Linked DNA regions of Homo sapiens. The protein of the gene in region 2 interacts with the protein of the main gene of each other region in a pairwise test. Each region holds a gene or a part of one and is shown on either strand. Other genes may lie near its edges. The genes, in order: RETREG1 and ZBTB7C.

Region 1 (10,731 bases), on a different chromosome or scaffold from region 2:
GACACAGGAAGGGGAACATCACACACCAGGGCCTGTCATGGGGTCGGGGGAGTGGGGAGGGATAGCATTAGGAGATACATCTAATGTAAATGATGAGTTAATGGGTGCAGCACACCAACATGGCACATGTATACATACGTAACAAACCTGCACGTTGTGCACACGTACCCTAGAACTTGAATAAAAAAAAAAATCACATCAGAGACGCTTTCTAGGCTGCAGATGTAACATGCCCAAAAGAGGAGCTGCATCATAAGCCATTAAATTTCAATACAGCGATCAGCAAGACTTAGGAAACGGACCTTTCACTCCATTCTGTGCCTATCCAAGGCAACCATCAGGGCTTACCACTTTCCTCACCAAAAACAGACACTTCACACAAAGATTTCTACGTGATGTTTTCCAATAGCTTTATTCATAATAGTCAAACATGAAAACTACCTGAAGGAACATCAACTAGCAAATGGATAAACAAATTGTGGTACATCATCAAAGTGGTACACTACCCAGCAATACAAAGCAGCAAATAACTGATACACACAGCAGAGATGAATCACAAAACTACGCTGAGTAAGCAAAGCCAGACACAAAAGACATCACACACTTTAGGAGGCTGAGGCAGGCAGATCACCTGAGATCAGGAGTTCGTGACCAGCCTGACCAATATGGTGAAACCCTGTCACCACTAAAAATACAAAAATTAGCCAGGCTTGGTGGCATGTGCCTGTAGTCCCAGCTACTCGGGAGGCTGAGGCAGGAGAATCGCTAGAACCCAGGAGGTGGAGGTTGCAGTGAGCCAAGATCGCACCACTGCACTCCAGTCTGGGAGAGAGAGAGAGACTCCGTCTCAAAAAAAAAAAAAAAAGGACATCACCCTATCACCCTAAATAACACCATTTATACAAAGCTTTAGGGAAGTCCAACCTAGTCAACAGTGACAGAAACAGATCAGTCCCCAGGGGTGGGTGCTGATAGAACAGGGATGCAAAGAAGCCTTTAAGGGTGATGAAATATTCTAGATCTCAACTGCCAGTATGGTTACACAGGCACATATGATACATTTGACTGTATACTTACAGTATGGGCATTTTATTGGTGGTAAACCACAAAAAGTTGATATTTAAAAAAAAACCAACATTTTCTATTACATTGGGCTCATTCCATTTCAGGATGTGCTTACAAGTACAACATGGGTTGCTTCTGAGAGGAAACTGCGTAGACAGGGACAGGCGTGGGAAGACATCAAAATGTTTACCCTTCTGTACATTTAAACATCTGAACTGTAAGGCTATGTTAGTTAATTTTTAAATAAATAAAATTTTAAATGAAGGAAAAAATTCTAAAAACATGTTCTTCATTGGTGAAATGAGTGAGATAGTATTATCTGAGGCCCCTCATCACCACAAAACTATGGGACTGTTACCCAATCTACTTCAGTTGTGGAAACCCTGCTTTTTGAGACAGGCACTCTATGTGGCCTCTATTTTACCAAACTCCTCTGAGTTCTCATGAATATCATTTTTTAGCATTTTTTCATATTTCAGTATTTTTCATAAAATATACCATAGATAAGAATGCATATGTGTGTGTGTGTGCCTGCACGTCTCGGATTCGAGAATGTCTTTTATTTTCTTTGTAGTTTTATCCCCTATGTGTGTATCCCTAACCAATCCTGTTCAGTTCCTGCACCATTTAAAACTTAATTGAATCATTCAGCATATATTACTTTGTGCATCTTTTGACCAAAATTACATTTGTAAAATTCATCCCTGTTGTTGCTAAAGCTGTATTTTCATTGTTATATGGTATCACAATTTATAATAAATAAATGAACCACAGTGTACTTATCCATTAAATTATTTGTGGATACTTCTACAAAGTATTTTTTTTTTTGGTCCCTGTTGCCTACAGAAAAAACAAATCCAAACACACAACATAGCATCTGAGGCAACTACTGCCCCCACAAACCACCTAGCCAACCTTATCTCCCACTACATTTTCTACCAGCCCATGCTGCCATTGCATCTGTTTACTGTGTAGTGGTTGAAATATTAGGTACACCTTCAAGATGCTATTGTGTTCATTGTATTCCTCAGGGTTAGAATGCTCTTGATCATCTACTAGATCTCCCAAATCATTCTTATCCACTGAGGTTTAAGCATGATCTCCTTATTAAGAACCCCACAATCTCTTCCATCCACAATACCACGTTCCCCAAAACCATATCAAAATGAATTATCCTTTCCTGAATCTTCCACCACACTTAATTCATGCAACTTTTAGTTATACCCATTGGTTACGGCTGTGTCACAATTTTTGCCCAAAATCTTGCAGATAATGGGCAGGTAATAAATGTTGAAGCTTTTGAGTCAAATTCAGACTCCTAAAACCCACTGCTAATGCCAGGTGCTAAATCATTCAAAAATATATCTTTAAAAAGTTTACTTCCACAAAAATGAAATACATCAATTAAAGTGAAAACAACATCCCATTGCTTAAGACAGATTTGGTTGGGTTCCCCACAGTTTTAAAATTGATCTTTTTTTCTCATAGAAAATACAGTGCTTTAGAGTTCCCAAGACACAGAAGGTTAGAGTATCACATAATTTAAGATCATTTGAGAAGAAATACATTATTTAAAGAAAACGTAATGTCCTTGAAAATCATTTTAACCCCCAGAGCAACAAATAAAAGGGAAAAAAAAACAAAATTTTAATGACATTAATAAATGGGTCATAAATTCCAATGAATTATAATGCAAAAGCAACAAGTAATTCTGAACTTAAAGAACAGGACAGTCATTTTTGTCAAAGAAAATACATGCATGGAATGCAGATGCCACAAACAGGAGATGAAATAAAACAGATAAGGAGAAGGCTGTATCTAGGCTGAATGGCTGGCCAATGTTTTCCTCTCCGTCAGTATAAATAAAATGGATGGAAGAAAACACCCCTGGATACTATCAAATATGCCTTTCAATTATTTTATGCAAAAACATTATTTTCAATAGGTGTCATTAAAGAAAACATCATAGAAAAAAGTTTGCAACTCATGTTACAGAAATTAGGCTAAAGTCTTTAATATAAAAACAGCTCCTATAAATCAATAAGGAAAAGAACACTGGCCTACTTGAAAAAATAGACAAAGGTTATTTATAAACAAACAATGCTGATAAATGGTAAATGTGGTAGTTCTTAAACATAAGATAAAATGCTCAATCACAGAGAACTGCAAAATAAAATCATTTTGGGATAGTCTTTTTCACCTATCAGATTTGCAGGATCAAAAAGTTTCATAAAATATTCTTCGCAAGAGTGTGGCAAAGCAGGCAGTCATACACATTGCTGGTGGGAGTATAAATTGTTAGAACCCTAAGGAGCTGCATGCAATATGGTGACAGCCATCAAAATTACAAGTGCACATGCCCTCTGACCCAGCAATTCCACTTCTGGGAAGTTCTCTAAAATACTTGCATATATGCAAAATGATGCATGTACAGGGTCATTAGCTATAATGCTGAAATAGCAAAAGCTTGGAAACATTACTGCCTCAGTAGGAGACAGGTTAAGTAATTTGAGACATCCTTACAATAGAATTCTGAAGCAGCTGAAAAAGAACAAGGAAGCAATCACCAAGAAATACTAGGAAAAGGAAGAGCTCATATGTTATTCCACAATTTGCATAGAATATGGTGTATTTGCTGAAATGTGCACTATCTGGAAAGAGACACAGGAAACTAGCAACATTGCTGGCCTCCGTGAGGAAACTGGGCGGCCAGGGACTGGGATGAGAAAGAGATTTTCAAAATGCTTACCCTTTTGTACCTTTAAACTTTTGCACTGTGAGACTGTATTAGTTTTTTAAAGAAATAAAATTTAAAATTAAGAAATAAAATGTTAAGGCCGGGCGCAGTAGCTCACGCTTGTAATCCCAGCACTTTGGGAGGCCGAGGCGGACGGATCACGAGGTCAGGAGATCGAGACCATCCTGGCTAACACGGTGAAACCCCGTCTCTACTAAAAAAAATACAAAAAACTGGCCAGGCGTGGTGGCGGGCGCCTGTAGTCCCAGCTACTCGGGAGGCTGAGGCAGGAGAATGGCGTGAACCCGGGAGGCAGAGCTTGCAGCGAGCCGAGATCGCGCCACTGCACTCCAGCCTGGGCGACAGAGTGAGACTCCATCTCAAAAAAAAAAAAAAAAGAAAGAAAGAAAGAAAAGAAAAAGAAATAAAATGTTAAAAACATCGTAAACATTAGTGAGACACAGCCCTAAGACTATTAGACTATTGCCCAATCTAGCATAAGACAATATGTCCTTCTTATTTGAGTGCTCGCATTCACTCCATAATAAGATAGATTTGGAATAAACTCTATTCCAAACACAGATACCTAAGAGATCCAAAGTTAATTCACTTTCAGGGACCTCCGACAAGATACAGCTAGTTTTAAGAGAAAACACCAGGACTAGCAGAGATCTGAGGAAAATATTCATCTTGCTCAAGTTAACCTAGAAAATGACAGGCTGTCTATTTTGTGCAATTTATTTATTTCTCAACTTTAAGGTTCAGAAATCTCTGTCCTGTAACAAGGTATCTGTTACCGGAGTCTGATTATTCTGCACTGTGTAGGTCATGTTTGTTATGAGGACACTTAGCAAACAAAGAAGGTTTTTCTCCGCCCTCAATAGCGTGGTAACGGATGACAGGACACCACTTTCAACGAAGGAGACAGACATTTCCCTGGCCTTTCTGAAGAGCGCTTTTTGGAGAGACAAACCTGTTGCTCAGGGGCTGAGCATTCCCGTGTGTTCTCCCTGTACTTCACCTAAAAATATGCCTGTTTTCCACACTGTGCACACCCGGGGGTGGGTGCTGGGCATACTCCACCTGCTTGTTTGCCTCCCGTTTTCTCATCAGGGAGTAAACACAGTAAACCTAACGCTCCAGGGGAAGGAAAAAACAAATCATTCAGGGCCCATCTCAGGTGACTGATGAATGCGGCACCGTTTTGAACGGGTACCTAATCTGGTCCAGATATGCCTGCTGGGGCTGCAAGAACCAAGACACGTTCAAGCACGTTTGCTCCGGCAAGCTTGGGCGAGCAGGTCAAGACCTCAGAGTTTTAGAAAGCAGGGGCGAAGTTTTCAAGCACGATGGGAACACCTGTAGGTGCAGGTGCCTGAGGGTCGGCCGACCACCTCGCATCTGAGGCTGGATCCGCACACGGAGAACGACAACTGCTCACAGGGACGTGCGTCCGGAGGAAAGTTGCGGTGAGTGTCTACCTGTTCGAGACAGGTGGCCGAGAAAGTGGGGCAGGGCTGACAATTCTTCCTCCGCAGTGTCCCGCGGGCTCCCCCTGCACTGGGTCCCCGGGGCCCCGGGCGCCCCAAGGTCACCTGCCCTCCTCAGCGCCCCCACCTTGCCCAAGCTCTCACCAGAACAGCAGGTTGGCAGCGACGAAGCCGAGCAGGCTCCGCAGCGGCCTCTTCCAGCTCAGCAGCTCGTCGGCGCGGCAGCCCAGCCACAGCACCGGCTCCCCGAGCAGCCAGGTTACCGCGGCCGCCGCCCGGCCCGCGGCCTCCTCCACCTGCAACCCCGCGCCCTCCGCCGCCCCAGCTTCCTGCGCTTCCTCCTCCTGCTGCTGCCGCTCTGCGGGGGATGCCTGGGGCGGTGGCGGCGACGGCGGCGCCTGCTCCTCGGCGGCAGGAGCCGGGCATCCCTCCTCGGCGTGCTCCGGAGGCGCCGGGCTCGCCATCTTCAGCTGTGCTTCCAGACAGGGACGGGGCCGGGCGCGCGCGCGGGCGCGCCTGGGTGTGGGTGCCGCCGAGGGCGGGGCGGCGGTGGCGGCAGGTCCCGGAGCGGGGCGCGCACCGCGGGGCACAGGCGGCTGGGGGCCTTGTGACGCCACAGGCCACGGAGGGGGAGCCGCCCGGGAAAGTGGGTGCGGCCGAGTTCGCGCAGGGGCGGGGCCGGGCGCCGGGAGCTGGGCGGTGTCCCCGGGGGGCTCTGGGTTCCTGGAGGGCCTCTCCGGGACTCGAGGAAAACGACCTTTTCCCTTGCAGCGGCGGGAGAGGGCGAAGTGGAGGACTGCTGCTCGGTTCCGTATCCAAAAGAGACCCAAGGCTCCAGGCAAAATAGATTGGACATTTTCACTTTCTCAAGCCAGGGCCACCGGTCGCCCAACCAGCAGCCACTGAGGGTGGTATCGGGGCGCCCCTTCCCCTGGCAGCGTATTTCAGCCCCCAGAGACATCCCCCACCTCGGCCATCCCCAGCGCCTTTGCAGGGACAGCAGCACAACCATAGCAGAGGTCCTGGGCATCCTGGAAATAACGTGCTGGTATAAATGTTGGATTGAGAAAGGAAGAAAAAACATTTGGGGTCAATTTGGGGCCCTCTCGTTTGACACGGGAGGAAACACAAGGCCGCAGCGTTGGGGGAAGCTGCTTCCTTTCTCTCTCTTCTTTCTCTCTGTCTCAGGTGCTTCCTTTCTCTTCTCTGTCTCTCTCTCTCTCTCTGCCTCTCCCTCTCTCTCCCCCGTCTCTCCCCCTATCTTCCCCTCTCTCCTCCTATCTCCCCCTCTCTCCCCCTCCTTGTGGCTAGGTGATCTGGCTCAGAAGTGCACGTTGGCCCGCGCGTGCGGGGAGCTGAGAAGCAAGAGATTGGAACTTTGCACGTGTCAAGCAAGGTTTGGCCTGCTTTGAAGACAGTAATTTCAGAGCCACTCCGGTCTCTGCGTCACAAGCGGGCATCAGGGCAGTGGTGGGGCGGCAGGGGATCCTGAGACCTCCCATGCCCTCTCTTTGGCCCCGGTGCTTCTGGGTGAGTGTGGGGAGAGAGGAAAATAGTTGTTTATGCTTTTCACCATTTGCATTTTTAAATTTTTGTCTTCTTTAATCTTCCTGGTCTTACTTTTACTCTAGAATGACAGGTCCTTCCCCCCCATACTAAGGGTTCTGTCTGCGGATGCATCAGGGCATCTCATATCCCTTTACTGGCAACCAGCCTGCCTGCACAGGATGGAAGGGAGGGCAATTAAATTCCCTGCGTCAAGGGAGTCTCTAGGGGAATGTTCTGTAACGCTCCTCTGGGTGGCCATTGTAAACCTCTGTGTATACACACGTGGAATCCATTGATCTGTACATTCACTGCAGGTGTCTGCACTTTACTGCTTGTATGTTGTACTTCAAAGGAGTTATATTCCCAGAGCCCAGGCAAAGGCTTACTGAGCACCTACCGAGTACACAAAGCATTGCTAAGCTCTGTGGATGCAGCTTCCACCCACAGGAAGCTCCCAGTCTGATGAGGGCCCAGTTACAATTGTGATATCTGCCACAGCGAAGAAGCCTTCGCTAAGTGCTAAGAGATTCCTTACTTAAACTGTGCATCCAAAATTAGGGGAGGAGTGGAGGGATCAGGTTTCAAGAGCGTTTTGTAATAAATGGCCTCTGCCCTAAATTGTAGGGCCCCCATTAGTGTGGGGATTGGGGACAGGGGCAATAACTGCTGTTGGGAATTCAACAGGAGAGGAGGCATGGGGTTGCAGGTGGAGACGCACAGTTCCTTAAGTAACTCACCAAAGGGAATAGTGGACATTGAATGGTCTCTAGTAACAGGAGGCTTGGTTTTTAACTAAAGGTGATACAGAACATCTGGCATTTCCGACTCCCCTTCTTAGGAGTATCCTGACAACCCGATGGAAAGTGGCCTGGGTGTCAAGGAAAAAGCAACGTGGAAACAATTCAGGTTTCTTCCATATAAGAGAGACAATCTTTTCCCAGGTGTGGGTCCTCCCTCTTGGCAGTAGCGGAGAAGTTTTTGAAAGATAAATGATGCTTTTATTGTGTCATTTGGCCTTTGTTTGGCGCTTGATACAGCCCAGGGTTTGCTATTCTAAAATCTGTCACTAGACAGATGTGTGCTGCAGCCAGTGTGGAGAACATGGGGCAGGAGAGAGGAAGAACCAGGTGTCCCCGTTCCCCAGACCAGTGCTGATGTGCTACCAGAAATGGGTTTGCAAGATTAATCACCTTCCTCCTGCTTCCCTTGAATTCTAATTATTGTTGTCAGGATCTGTTGAAGTAGTAAAAGCTGCTGGCAACCAAGACACATAAAAGCTAAGCTCCAGTTGCTGTGTGTGGTTTCCAACACTTATTTATTATCTCTGTTTAATAATAAACCTCCTTCCCCACAGCTATGTGTTGTAAAGTCTATCCTTTCTCTCTCTCTCAAAATTACTATGGAGAAAATGCTATGCAACCTGTTTTGCATAAAAGGCTGGGCTAATTAACCTTTCCTTTTCACCTCCGACCTCTAATACTTACAAACTGTATGACAGAAGTAGACACTGGCATAGACATACAAATGGTGCTGCTGGGTGGGATTTTGTTGTTGTTTTGTTGTTTGTCTAATGATCTTTGTGATGCTTGAGTAATTTATTCAGGGCTAAGATTACAGAAACATAATGCTAACAATGGTTGAAATCAACCTTGTCCCCTAGTTTTAAGAACACGCCACATTCTTGAACTCCTGCAAGTAATCTTACTAAGATTCTCTTCTGAAATTTTATTGCTATATATTAGGAACAGAGTGATTAACACTAGTGAGCTAGATGATTTGACAATATATATCTGAGAAAAGGAAACTGGAAACGTGTCTGAGAAAAAAAAAAGTTCTAGCTACTGAATGAGAGTTTAGAAAATGAGACAGCTCCAGTAAAGAAAGTCCAAATGCACATAAGAACTCTCTAACAGAGGCCACTCACTTTTCTCATCTAAGAGTATGTGGAAAGCTTGTAATAGGAGAGGAAAAATTATGAATAATTAATTCCCACTATAGGAAGTCTCCTAGGGCAAAATCAAGCTAAGACTTAGAATGATGGGGAAAAGCCCCCTAGTCATAATATTTTGGGGAAATTTCTTTTCTCTACAATATTATATATTAGAATCTTACAGTAGCTCCATGATTCCTTAAACAAAAGGAGGCTCGTTGATATGGTTTGGCTCTGTGTCCCCACCCACATCTCACCTTGAATTGTAATAATCCCCACGTGTCAAGGGTGGGACCAGGTGTAGGTAATTGAATCATGGGTGCGGTTTCCCCCATGCTGTTCTCGTGATATTGAGTGCTTGCAAGATCTGATGGCTTTATAAGGGGGCTTCTCCCTTCACTCAGCACTCATTCTCTCTCCTGCCACCCTGTGAAGAGATGCCTTCCGCCGTGATTGTAAGTTTCCTGAGACCTTCCCAGCCATGCGGAACTGTGAGTCAATTAAACCTCTTTTCTTTATAAATTACCCACTCTCAAGTGTTTCCTCATAGCAGCATGAGAATGAACTAATACACTTGTGTATATGTTGTATCGTTTATTAGCCTGCAGATAGAATTTTTTTTGTGTTGGTACTTTTATTAAACTAATTCTACCCTCCTCCCCTTGCTATATCCTCTGCTCCTTATTCCTAAGTTTCCATAATTTTCTTCTCACTAAGAAAACCTGGATAGTTCACTCTAAGCACAGATAAATAAGAGTATCATACAGCATCAGCAGGCACAGAGCAATTGGAAAGGAAGGAAGATCATCTCCCGGGTCTCTAACCTGGCTTCCAAGGCCCAGCCCAGTGCCTGGCTCACAGAAGGAATTCACTATTTCTACTTATGTTGAATGTCTGTTGTGCATATACAGACGGAAATATTCAAACTAGCATAGTCTGTGTTTGACAAGCATTCCATAAGGGATGTGCTTACCAGAAAGATGGTGGCCAAGATGTTGGCCACCCAGATATCAGTTGGGGTATTGCTCCCTAATACCTAAAAGAAGTTTTTTTTTTAAGGCTTCAAAATGGTTAACTGAAAAGAACGGAGGTCACATGACAACATGAGTATATCCCCCAAGGAAGCCTACCTGTCTATCCCCAGGTACACACACAAACACACGCACACCTATGATCCACAGGGGTGACTGCAGGACATTAACTTCCAACCCCTTCCCAACAGGAATCTGAACCAGCAGACAAAGCACTGTCGGGTCCTTGCTGCAACCTCTTCCCCCCACCCCCTTTGATGGTCCTGGTTCTGCATCATTGTACTTGCGTATCATTCACTCATTATTTCATTGCTTCATTCACTAGTCATCAGCCATTCCTGAAAGACTGACTGTGGGCTTCTGGTAAGATGAACAGGACTGCTTATTTCTCTCATGGTGCTTAGAGTATAGACAATGGATAAAGACCCTGAAGAAGGCGCTGGGCAAAGGGAATGGGGAAGCATGGTGTGCACAGTCTGGAAGCAGGAGAGGAGCCAGCCTGGCCCTGGTTGGAAACCTGGAGGAGATCTAAGCTGGAGGATGGGGTGGGAGGAGCAGGAGGCTACTCACAGTGGGGCTCCTCCTGTATGATGCTAGAAGCTTCTGCTTTGTCCTGAGAGCAACAGGGAGCCATGGGTGGGCTTGCAGCAGGACACAGAGGGGCTAGCCTGTGTTTTAGAAAGGTATCTCCAGACCATGGAGGATATAAAGCCTGGCAGAGGGAAGGCACTCTCAGAGACTTTTCCCTTGTCATTCTCTAGAATGAGGGAGGAGAAGGAGCCAGTCTGGAAGGGAGGCTGACAAGTTTCATTTTTAAAAATTGATCTGCACTTGGATATCTCTGGAGATGCCAGTAAGGTTGTTGGGTACAGAGGTCTGCAGCTCAGAGACCAGCAGGCATCCTGAACAAGACAGATCCAGGCAGACGGA
Region 2 (10,222 bases):
TAACTCCCTGGAGATTCATCAAGGCTGTTGCACATATTGAGAATTCACTCCTTTTTATTGCTGAATAGTATTCCCTGGCATGGATGTACCACAATGTTTAGCCATACACCTTTGAAGGATGTCTAGGTTATTTCCAGTTACTCACTATCGTGCACAAAGTGACCATGAACATTTGTGTATGAGTTTTTCATGGACATAAGATTTCATTTCTCTGGGGTAGATGCTCAAGAATTCAATTGCTGGGTCATATGGCGGTTGCATATTTTGTTTTTTAAGATCTGCCAAATCATTTTCTAGAATAGCTGTACCATTCTACATTCCTACCAGCAATATACGAGTGATCCTTTTCTCCACATCCTCACCAGCATTCGGTGTTATCAGTATTTTTTTATTATTTTAGCCACTATCCTATGTATGTAGTGATGTCTTATGATAGTTTTAATTTGAATTTCCCTAATGGCTCATGATATTGAACATCTTTTCAGATTAGATGGCTTATCTGCCATCTGTATACTCTGTTTGGTGAATCTTGCTGTACATTTTTATTGCAGTTGTTATGTCCCTCTAAGCTCTGTTAGAGCAGAGGCCTTCTTGATTTGTTCTCTGTGCATCCCCAGAGTACAGTACAGAGCCTGGCACAGGGAGACTACCCAATAATATTTAGAGAATGAATGCATGGACTGCCAGGGTCTCTGGCCCTTTTAAAGATGAGAAGGTGGGAAAGCAGTGAGGCCTTAGCTCTGGGAAGCCTCCTGAACACCTGGCCAGTGGGATTGCTTAGGGAACGCCTGGGCTGCCCCATGGTGGAGGAGAAGGTGAGGGCAGCGGAGGGGCACCCAGCATCCTCCATGCCTGCTGCCTTCCCAGTGCCCACTCACACTTTATGAGCGTATACTTCTCACTCCTCCCCTCCCCCTGCCTCTGCCTTCCCAGGACAGAAACATCCAGAAGATAAATGTGTAAGGATCTCCAGAACTCTTCCCACTGGGGCGTGGGGCTTTAGGATTTGTTTTCCTTTTTGTTTTCTCCCCACTTTATTTGTACCAAGATAAGGGCCAGGGCTTTGCTAGGATTTATCTAGATGAGCCATGTTGAAGCTTTGCTGTAAGTAGAAGAGCCCTATGAAGCTTGTCCAACCCACCTTATTTTATTGTTGTTGTTGTTCTGATTTGTTGTTTGTTTTGTTTTAGGCTTTTAGCAGCCTGAAGCCATGGTGTTTGTTTAGTTTCTGTCTCTAGTGATAAGTGGAAAAGAGGGATGAGGAAGGGGCTTTACTGGCCCAACCAGAAACTAACAAACAACCCATGACTATATTCTCTCCTTGGACGCCCCTACCTGCCCTGGCAGATGCCACATTTTGTCCCAGTTGACTGTGTTCACCTGGGCTGTGAGCTGTGCTTCCTGAAAGGAAGGGATGCCAGTTGTCCCCTGTCGTGCCCTGCTTTCTTCTGGTGGCTGCCACTGGCCATACTTTATGTATAACATATACAATGATAAGGTGTCTCAGAAGACGCTTCTCACCACAGGGGTTGATATTTTCATGAGGCTGACAGAATTTAGACATGAAAAATTAACTAACAATGTACTTGAATTTATATTTATATTGCATTATATTTATATTGAATATTGCATTTATATTTGTATTGAATTTAAATATTTATAGGTGAAATCACTCTCAGATATACACATATAGGAAGTTAGTGTTTTTTTTTTAAAAAAAGGATCAAGATTTACAAATGGAAGGAAACTTCAACTGCAATGAACGAGTAAGGTCAGGAAGCAAAACATACCACAAGGCCCCCATTTACTTGCTGAAAATGGGCCACGAAATTTGTTTTAAGCTTCCTAGTAGCCAGTGCAAAGTGTAAGTCTGTTACAGAATCAGAGGATTTGTGAGACAAATCAGAGCATCTTCTCAGCAGAAGCACTGAGAGGTCCTTGCCCCACAGAGGTGGGTCCTGTTCCTGCAGCCAAGGCAACAGCTAGGTTCATGAGGCTTTTCATCCTGCAGTTGTATTCTGCAACTGCATGTTGGCAAAGTGGAAATCAGTAACACCAAGCCTGAGAGAAGGCTTGCAGCCTTTGGTGAGTAGCTGACACCAGCTGCCCAGTGAGAAGCCTATCCCTAAGAGTCTTAGGGGTCCAGAGAAAAGCCCCAGCTTGTAAGCCAGGCTGTGAATTGCAGGTGAGATTTGGCAAGGCTAAGAGGTAGGAGGACTGGCCTTGCAGTGGACAGGGAGCCCTTATGCCAAGGAGGTGGCTCAGAGTCCTAGAGTTGAGACCCCTCCTGGGGCCACGCTCACTAACCCAGTCTTCTTCTCTGTGTGTCTCTGCAGGGCTCTGGCTGAGAACATGGCCAATGACATTGATGAGCTCATTGGCATTCCCTTCCCCAACCACAGCAGTGAGGTCCTGTGCAGCCTCAATGAGCAACGGCACGATGGCCTGCTGTGTGACGTGCTCCTGGTGGTGCAGGAGCAGGAGTATCGGACCCACCGCTCCGTCCTGGCTGCCTGCAGCAAGTACTTCAAGAAGCTTTTCACAGCCGGCACCCTAGCCAGCCAGCCCTACGTCTATGAGATCGACTTTGTCCAGCCTGAGGCTCTGGCTGCTATCCTGGAGTTCGCCTACACCTCCACGCTCACCATCACCGCTGGCAATGTCAAGCACATCCTCAACGCAGCCAGGATGCTGGAGATCCAGTGCATCGTGAACGTGTGCCTGGAGATCATGGAGCCTGGGGGGGACGGGGGGGAGGAGGATGACAAGGAGGACGATGACGACGACGAAGATGATGATGATGAGGAGGACGAAGAGGAGGAGGAGGAAGAGGAGGAGGATGACGATGATGACACGGAGGACTTTGCTGACCAAGAAAACTTGCCTGACCCCCAGGACATCAGCTGCCACCAAAGCCCTTCCAAGACAGACCATCTCACAGAGAAGGCCTATTCAGACACCCCCAGGGACTTCCCTGACTCCTTCCAGGCTGGCAGTCCTGGCCATCTGGGGGTGATCCGGGACTTCTCCATCGAATCTCTGCTAAGGGAGAACCTGTACCCCAAGGCCAACATCCCCGACAGGAGACCCTCCTTGTCTCCATTCGCCCCGGACTTCTTTCCACACCTCTGGCCAGGGGACTTCGGTGCCTTTGCCCAGCTGCCTGAGCAGCCCATGGACAGTGGGCCACTGGATCTGGTCATCAAGAATCGGAAGATCAAGGAGGAGGAGAAGGAGGAGCTGCCCCCACCCCCACCGCCACCCTTCCCTAATGACTTCTTCAAGGACATGTTCCCTGACCTGCCGGGGGGGCCTCTGGGACCCATCAAGGCGGAGAACGACTACGGTGCCTATCTCAACTTCCTGAGTGCCACCCACCTGGGAGGCCTCTTCCCACCCTGGCCCCTGGTAGAAGAGCGCAAGCTGAAGCCCAAGGCCTCTCAGCAGTGCCCCATCTGCCACAAAGTCATCATGGGGGCCGGGAAGCTGCCGCGGCACATGAGGACCCATACCGGGGAGAAGCCATACATGTGCACCATCTGCGAGGTCCGCTTCACCAGGTGCGCATGGCAGCCCTCGGGTGTGGGGCACGGGGCCAGAGGCCATGGGGGACAGCAGAGTTGGGCAGGGAGGCTGGCGGTGGAGACAGAGACCCAGATAGATCCCACACACATGCAGGCTCGTGGCTAGCAGGGGTGCTAGGCATCACCTGGTGCTGTGACTTTCAAGCCCTTTTTAGGGGCTGCAGTATTTTCTCAGATACAATATTAGGTGGAAGCCCATGACATGAAGCAGGTAAGAGCAGGGCTGTTCTGGCTGGGAAGGAAGTGAGGCGCCTCAAGCACCTTGGTTGCTTGGCTTCCTCTTCTCCTTCCAGCTGTAAATTTGTGGAACCCAGTTTGAATGGATGGCCCTCCCCAGATGGAGTGCCGCCCCTTTGTTTGATTTGGAGAAGCAGCCACTGACCTTTATTAAGCATATTCTGCATGCCAGGGGCCGTCCTCGGCACCTTAAGTACATGCTTACCACAGCTAGGCCCTGGGAAGATGGGGAGACGTGGTTGACTTTGTTTATGACACATCTCCCAGTGGCTAGCTGACCAAGCATGTGTGCAGCTGGAAAATGGCAGAGCTGAGACTGGAATCTCAGCCTCTGTGTAATAGCAAAGCCGGTGACCAGTAGACTGCAGAGATGCCTGTAGGTCCTCTCAATCATTTTGGGGTCAGACCTAAAGGCTGGGCCTCTTTTTATGTTCTCCTCTTTGCCTTTCCATTTAAGGAAGGGGGACAACTTTATGCTGTTATAAAATTTGAAATTTGAAATCAATACATTATAAACCTTTCATCTTTCATAGACTCTGTCCCATTCAGCAAACATATGTTATATGCCTACTCTGCACAGCAACTTTTGTACTCAAAACTGATTGGCGGGTTGACGTGGGGTCAGATCTGCCCACTGCCAGCTTTGGCTAGGCCTCACTTTTGGAAAATACGGCCCATTGGTGCTATCTCTGGTTCCTGGTGTGAGGCTGATCTTTTCAGCCATGTCCACAGGTGGGGAGGGCTCTGGTGGGTGGCCTGGCATCAGGGTTTGGTCATTTCAGTGTATCCTGTGTGTACAGAGCCTGGCGATGCCTGCCCTGTGAACATGACTTACTAGACTAGGTCCCTTCCCCACCCTGCCACTGTCCCTCTCAGAGAACTCACCTTGAGAGACCCACACTTGTTCCGGTGGCGGTGCTGCTGCCCCACTTCCTCTTGGAGATGTATCTTTGGGAATTGGTGGCAGCTCATTCTTTTGATTTTCCTCAGTGGGCCCAAAGCTTTGGCCCAAGGACACAGTGCAAGGTTGTGAATGAGACTGGATATCAAATCAGGGACTATGCTTTTCCAGGAAAAAAAAAAAAAAAAAAGATGAGTCCTCTAAAGTCATGAGACCTGTTCTTCTGGGTTGCTTGGAAACTACTGGAAGTTGCCAGAGAAGAGTTTCAGAAATCCATTCAGGTGACACTGGTGTGGCTGAAATAGCTCTGCAGGCTCCTCAGGGGACTGTTTTGAAGGAAACACTGATTATTTCCAAGGTGGCCTTGGGGTCCTGCTCACAGCTGCTTCTGTGAGGGGAACCCCAGACAGCATCTGTCCCAGGTGCTTCCAGTGACAGTAGAGGGAGAATCTGCAGGAGCAGAGGGGAAGGGCCTCACAGACCCAGGATGTGTTCCCTTGCCCTTAGCAGTGAGCTAGGCCAGCCACCCGGCAATGCTGACAGCAGGGCGCCCTGCTCCTGTTACTCCCCAGAGCAGATGGACCCAAGGTTCCTGAGATTCACCTCCCCTTGGATGTCCCTCAGTGACAGCCCTGCCACCCCAATGCCACCGTGGGTGATGCTGCCCCCTACCTCCTCCTGAATTCACCTTAGCCCCACAGAACCAGGCAGAACACCTGAACAAGGCTTGGCAAAAGCACAGGAATACCGAGGGAGATAAGCCAGAGCACCGTGTGAAAGCCAGATTCAAGTACAGCTCACCCATCTTCACGGGGGGCCTGGCTTCAGCCCGAGAGTCCCAGCCCCTGCATATGACTTTAAGGATGCCAGGAAGCTCTTCACAGGCCAGATCAGGAAAGCCAGCCATGTTATCAGCCTGGAGCGCCCTCTCCTGCCAACGCAGGCTCTGCCTCCCTAACTGCCCATGCCTGCCCCCTTGGCAGATGGCTAACAGGAGCACCTCTCCCTTCAGGGGAGACCGAGGCTGGTGACTCCAATTCCAAAAGGATCTATCTGTGTCTCAGGATATCGCACGGTGGCCCTGCTGGCACCCTGAGACCCCATCTCCCTTCTTCCCCACTCCCTTTCCTCTGGGCCTTCCCCACGCACAGCCTTCTGTGAGGTCCACGCCAGGTCTGGACAGTCTGTGCACCCTGTTTTAAGGGAAGGTTTTAACCGTGCGTAGTCACTGCAGACAGACTTCTCACCCTCTGGACCCTGGGACATTCTCTGGGAGTGGGCGTCCTGGTTTGGGCAGCAGTGCTGTGTTGTATAGGAGGGTGACATTCCAGGTTCCTCCCTCCCAGCACATTCCTGATGGTCACTTGGGGTGGCCTCTCTGTCTGCAGTCCCCACTCCCAGCCAGATGATAGGCAGTGGGGCAGCTCTGGTCATCCAGCCATCTGGCCTTGGGTTCCTCCTGCTCCAGAATGACGGCCATCTGGCCCCAGGCCTGTCTCCAGCTGAAGCTGCTGCATTGCAGCCCCCTCAGCACCCCCACCACTTGTTCCCACTGGTCTCTGACCCTCCCGAAAAAGATCAGACAAGCTCTTGGGTCCTTCTCTTCCCAGGAGGAGAGAAACCCCGAGCTGGGGAAAGGCAGGGTGGAGGAGATGGCTCCAGCCTGCCTCCCTTCAGAGGCTTTATTGCTCACTGTGGGCTGTGGCTGTCCTTGTGGGACACTCCCCACTCTCCTCCCCCTCACATTCTTCAGAATCACTGGGCCTTTGCTTCTCACCCCATCTCTGGAACTGCCCGGCAAGGATTCTTTTCCGTGCTTGAAGAGCCCCAAGCGTGGTCTGTCCAGGTTGAGGTTTTCCTGTAATTCTCCCTGTGGCCAAGGCTCCCTGCAGCCTTTCCACGGGGACCTTATTTTTGGCTGAATTCCCCAACGCGATTCCTAACACCTGCCCCTTCCACCTGGAAGCTCTTCAGCAGCCACTTAGAGCAGAGACGGCTGCCTCGTTGACGCAGAATTCCCAGACTCCCTTCCAAGGCCACGCCACTTCCTGAGACTGGGCCCTGTCATGTCACTCTTGTCCCCGCAGCAAGGACCCAGACATGCTGCCCTCAGGTCCTTCTCTCGGACATGATTTCCATTTCCCCTTCTGGAACCCGAGTCTTTCCTTCATCACAGCTGAGCTTCTGCCCTGGCAAAGCCCCATTTCCTCCCTCCTTGATGTTGGGAAGAGCTCAGGGTCTTGTGACACCCTCCCCGCCCCACCCCATGGGGTGCTGGAGAGGCCTGCCCTTCCCCTGCATGGTAGCCCTTCAGCCCAGGCTCTGAGTCACAGCCTCCCAGATGCCAGCTCCCAGAATGTCCACACCCCACGGGGACGTACTAATGACCTCAGCAGCCACAACCCAGGGGGAGGACATGGGAATCCTTCCAGCAGAGCCCCTTCACCCCTAAGGCCCTGCCTGCTGCTGTCATTCTGTGGGTCTAGAGAGGAGGGACAGAGGCCGCCCCACAATGGTATTGTCTGTTCTTTGGTGTCAGGAACCTCACCTCTGAGGCAGCTCTAGATTCCAGCCAGTCCTACCAGGTGTCCCACCACTGATCTGTTCCAAATATGAAATCTCCCTAGGCAGGGCCTCAACGGCATCAACCAAACTATTTCTTTGGCCCCATGCTGTCCCTTCCTAGCTCTGGTCACCCCATAGCCACTTGGGCTCCCTTTGCCTGTGCACTCCCTCGGTTTAGTTCAAAGACACCGTTTTCCTCCTGGGAAAGGCTTGTGCCTGTGCTGGCCACAGAGGCAGCTCCTGTCCCTTTCAGGTCTGACTTGGGACACAGAAACAGCTCCAGGTCATAGGGCAGAGGCAGTCTGGACCAAGATTACCTTAGATCCTCTTCATCAGGAATCCTTTCCCTTCTCTTCCCAGAAAGTCTGGAAGCCAGGAGCCAAAGGTTAGGATGGCAGGCTTCGGCCAGAGGTGATGCCTAGGAAGGGCCTAGAAGAACAGGGAGCATGTGATCTCAGGAAGATAAAGCATTTGTCTTCATGCACAGGGACACTGCTATGCTTGGTGGGTATTTTCCCTGCCCACGGACATCCCAGGTCCAGGTGGCCCCCGCACACCTTTTTGCCCCATCTGCAGCCATCACTGCCAACTGGGCCTGGCCCTGGGCCCTGTGAAAGCCTGTGCATCTTCCGCCTCTTAATTCCCACCACATGGGTCCTTGATTGCAGGCCATAGAGACTTGCCCCTTGCCTCCCCCAGCCCTTCTGTTAGTAGCTCCTAGAGAGCATGGCTGGCTGGTCTCCCTCCTGGAGCCCCTGCATCCTGTCACAGCCTGGCTCCCAGAGATGCCCCAGCCATGCCTGATGGGGACAGTAGTGAAGGCAAGAAACTGCAAAATGAAAACAGACTGGCCCAGAGACAGCAGAGGTCCCATAGAGCACACCGTCCTGGGTGGGGATGGACGACCTCTGCACCGCAGTCACTCTCTGACAAGGCACGCTTTCCAGTTCCGCTGAACCCCGAAGGCTGTGCCTTTTAGTCTCCACCTGCCTCCTCCAGTGCCAGCCGAATGCTGACCACCTTTGTGCCCCCACAGCTGCCTGCTCTCCAGATAAGCCAGCAGCCTGGCTTTTGTCTTCCCTCTATTTTCTTTGTAGTCCTCCCACTCCTGGCAGCTCTGGGAACCCTATTAAGATAATGTAATGGCATTAGCAGTGGTAGCAGGAAGAGTGTGTCTCAAACCATCGGGTTACAAGAAGTCCAGGTAGAGGCTGCTGGGAAAGCATTATCCTGATTGGGAGCCTTTCTGGAGGCCACAGACCTCAGGCCAAGGCCCCACAGCCCTTTTCTTTGATTCTGGGAATGAGCTCATGAGGACTCACATGACTTTCCCGACGATGAGCTCTCCAGGCTGAAAGGAGGCATGTAGACCGAGGCTTGGGTGCATATGTCCTTGGCTGTCCCTGATGCAGAGAGATGGAACGAGATGGCAGACAAGGGGACCAGGGCCAGAGGGGAGCATGTTGGATTTGTAGTCGGAGAGTTCTGAAATTGGCACCACTAGTCAGTCACCAAACGCGCAGTGAGCCTCCTCTCTATCTACATTCAGTGTTGTGTGTTGTGCAGAGTACGAAAGAGCATCCCACAGGTTCTCATCAAAGCAGGTACCAGAACTCCATGCCACGTGCAGGGAGGAGTGCTGGGAGGAGGAGGGCTGGGAGGAAGAGGGCTGGGAGGAAGGGGCACCCTGGCTCTGGGCTTGGCCTTCTGGGAGGGCCCTAAGGATAGAGCATCAGTGTCCAAGCACAAGACATGCACACACGGGGAAGGAGCCAGGGTTTACAGGGCATCCACCCTGTAATGTGGTGGGCTGTGCACTGGGGGACCGGCAGTCCAGTTCATACCTGCAGGTGTTCAAAGATGCAGAGTTGCCCAGAGTGTGGGGCAGCGTACCATGGGGGGCAGGCAGGAAGCTGGCAGAGGAGATGGCAGTGAGCTTGTGAAGAGCCCAGAAAGCCATGCTAAGGGGTAAGTGAGCACACAGGCCATTGGACAAGGGGGCCTTGGGAAGTTTTAAGTGGAACTGCCAGACCTCCATTCCTACAGAGAAGTAACTAAGAGCTCAGCTCTTGAGATTCCAGCTAGAACATATTCCAGCTAAACTCACGCTGCTTCCACAGGCAGATTGAATATGTGAAGCAGCAAGGAAGCCAGCCAGCCAAACAGACTCCAGAAGGAGATTTGGCAGAAGCCCATTACCCAGATGCATACACTCATGGAGCACTAGAGGCCCCAAGGATGCAGCCCAACCCGCATTTTAGAGATCAGGAAACTAAGGCCCAGACCAGGGAAGGGAACTGATCTAGTTCTTGGAGTGTGCCCGGCACCACCTCCAGCTCCAATGCACGTCACAGTATCCACAGGAAAGGTCAGTGTAAAGAAGGAGGCTGTGTGGCCCTAGAACACCATTCCCTCTTTGGTCCTTTCTTTCCTTATCTTGGAAGTAATTAGATCAGTGTTTTCAAGGTCCTGAGAAGTGTACTGCTAATAGTGTCACTTACTGGGCCCACTGACTCAGACCATGAATCAGAATGTGGTAAAGTATGCCTGGTAAACTAGATGATCCTCTGAAGTTTTTTCCAGCACTGGCTTATCATGAGCTTTGCCTACTCTTCCCACCCCTTGCCCCCATTCCCACAAATGTCTCCATTAGGGAAAGCTCCTGCCTAGGGCTGAGTTCCTCCCATTGGCATACCCCAGTCTTCTGGCCACAGAGGCAGAAAGCTGGCTACCGGTGCCCTCTCTTGATTGTTCTGGTCTGCCCTTTCTGCAGCAGTCCTCTTAGGCCTCAGGTTGGGAATCCCTGCTGTGAAAATCCATCCTTTCTCATCCCCAGAATAGCTTACAAACAAACCACAGCCAGGTAGCCCCCCAGGTTCCTTTGCCCCCACCAGCTGTATACCTTTGGGAAGCTCTTAACTTCTTTGAGCCTCCT

What was found.
Region 1: the proteins of ZBTB7C (region 2) and RETREG1 interact in a two-hybrid assay, tested with the Homo sapiens proteins (one study listed by IntAct).

What each region holds. Positions count from the first base shown.
Region 1 is NC_000005.10:16,611,216-16,621,946, forward strand, and holds the start of RETREG1 (reticulophagy regulator 1), read right to left. Parts: upstream 5,783-10,731; 5' UTR 5,757-5,782; coding exon 5,437-5,756; intron 5,272-5,436; exon of another isoform or gene 4,711-5,271; intron 1-4,710. UniProt on the Homo sapiens protein: Endoplasmic reticulum (ER)-anchored autophagy regulator which mediates ER delivery into lysosomes through sequestration into autophagosomes.
Region 2 is NC_000018.10:48,033,238-48,043,459, reverse strand, and holds part of ZBTB7C (zinc finger and BTB domain-containing protein 7C), read left to right. Parts: intron 1-2,336; coding exon of another isoform or gene 2,337-2,352; coding exon 2,353-3,560; intron 3,561-10,222. UniProt on the Homo sapiens protein: May be a tumor suppressor gene.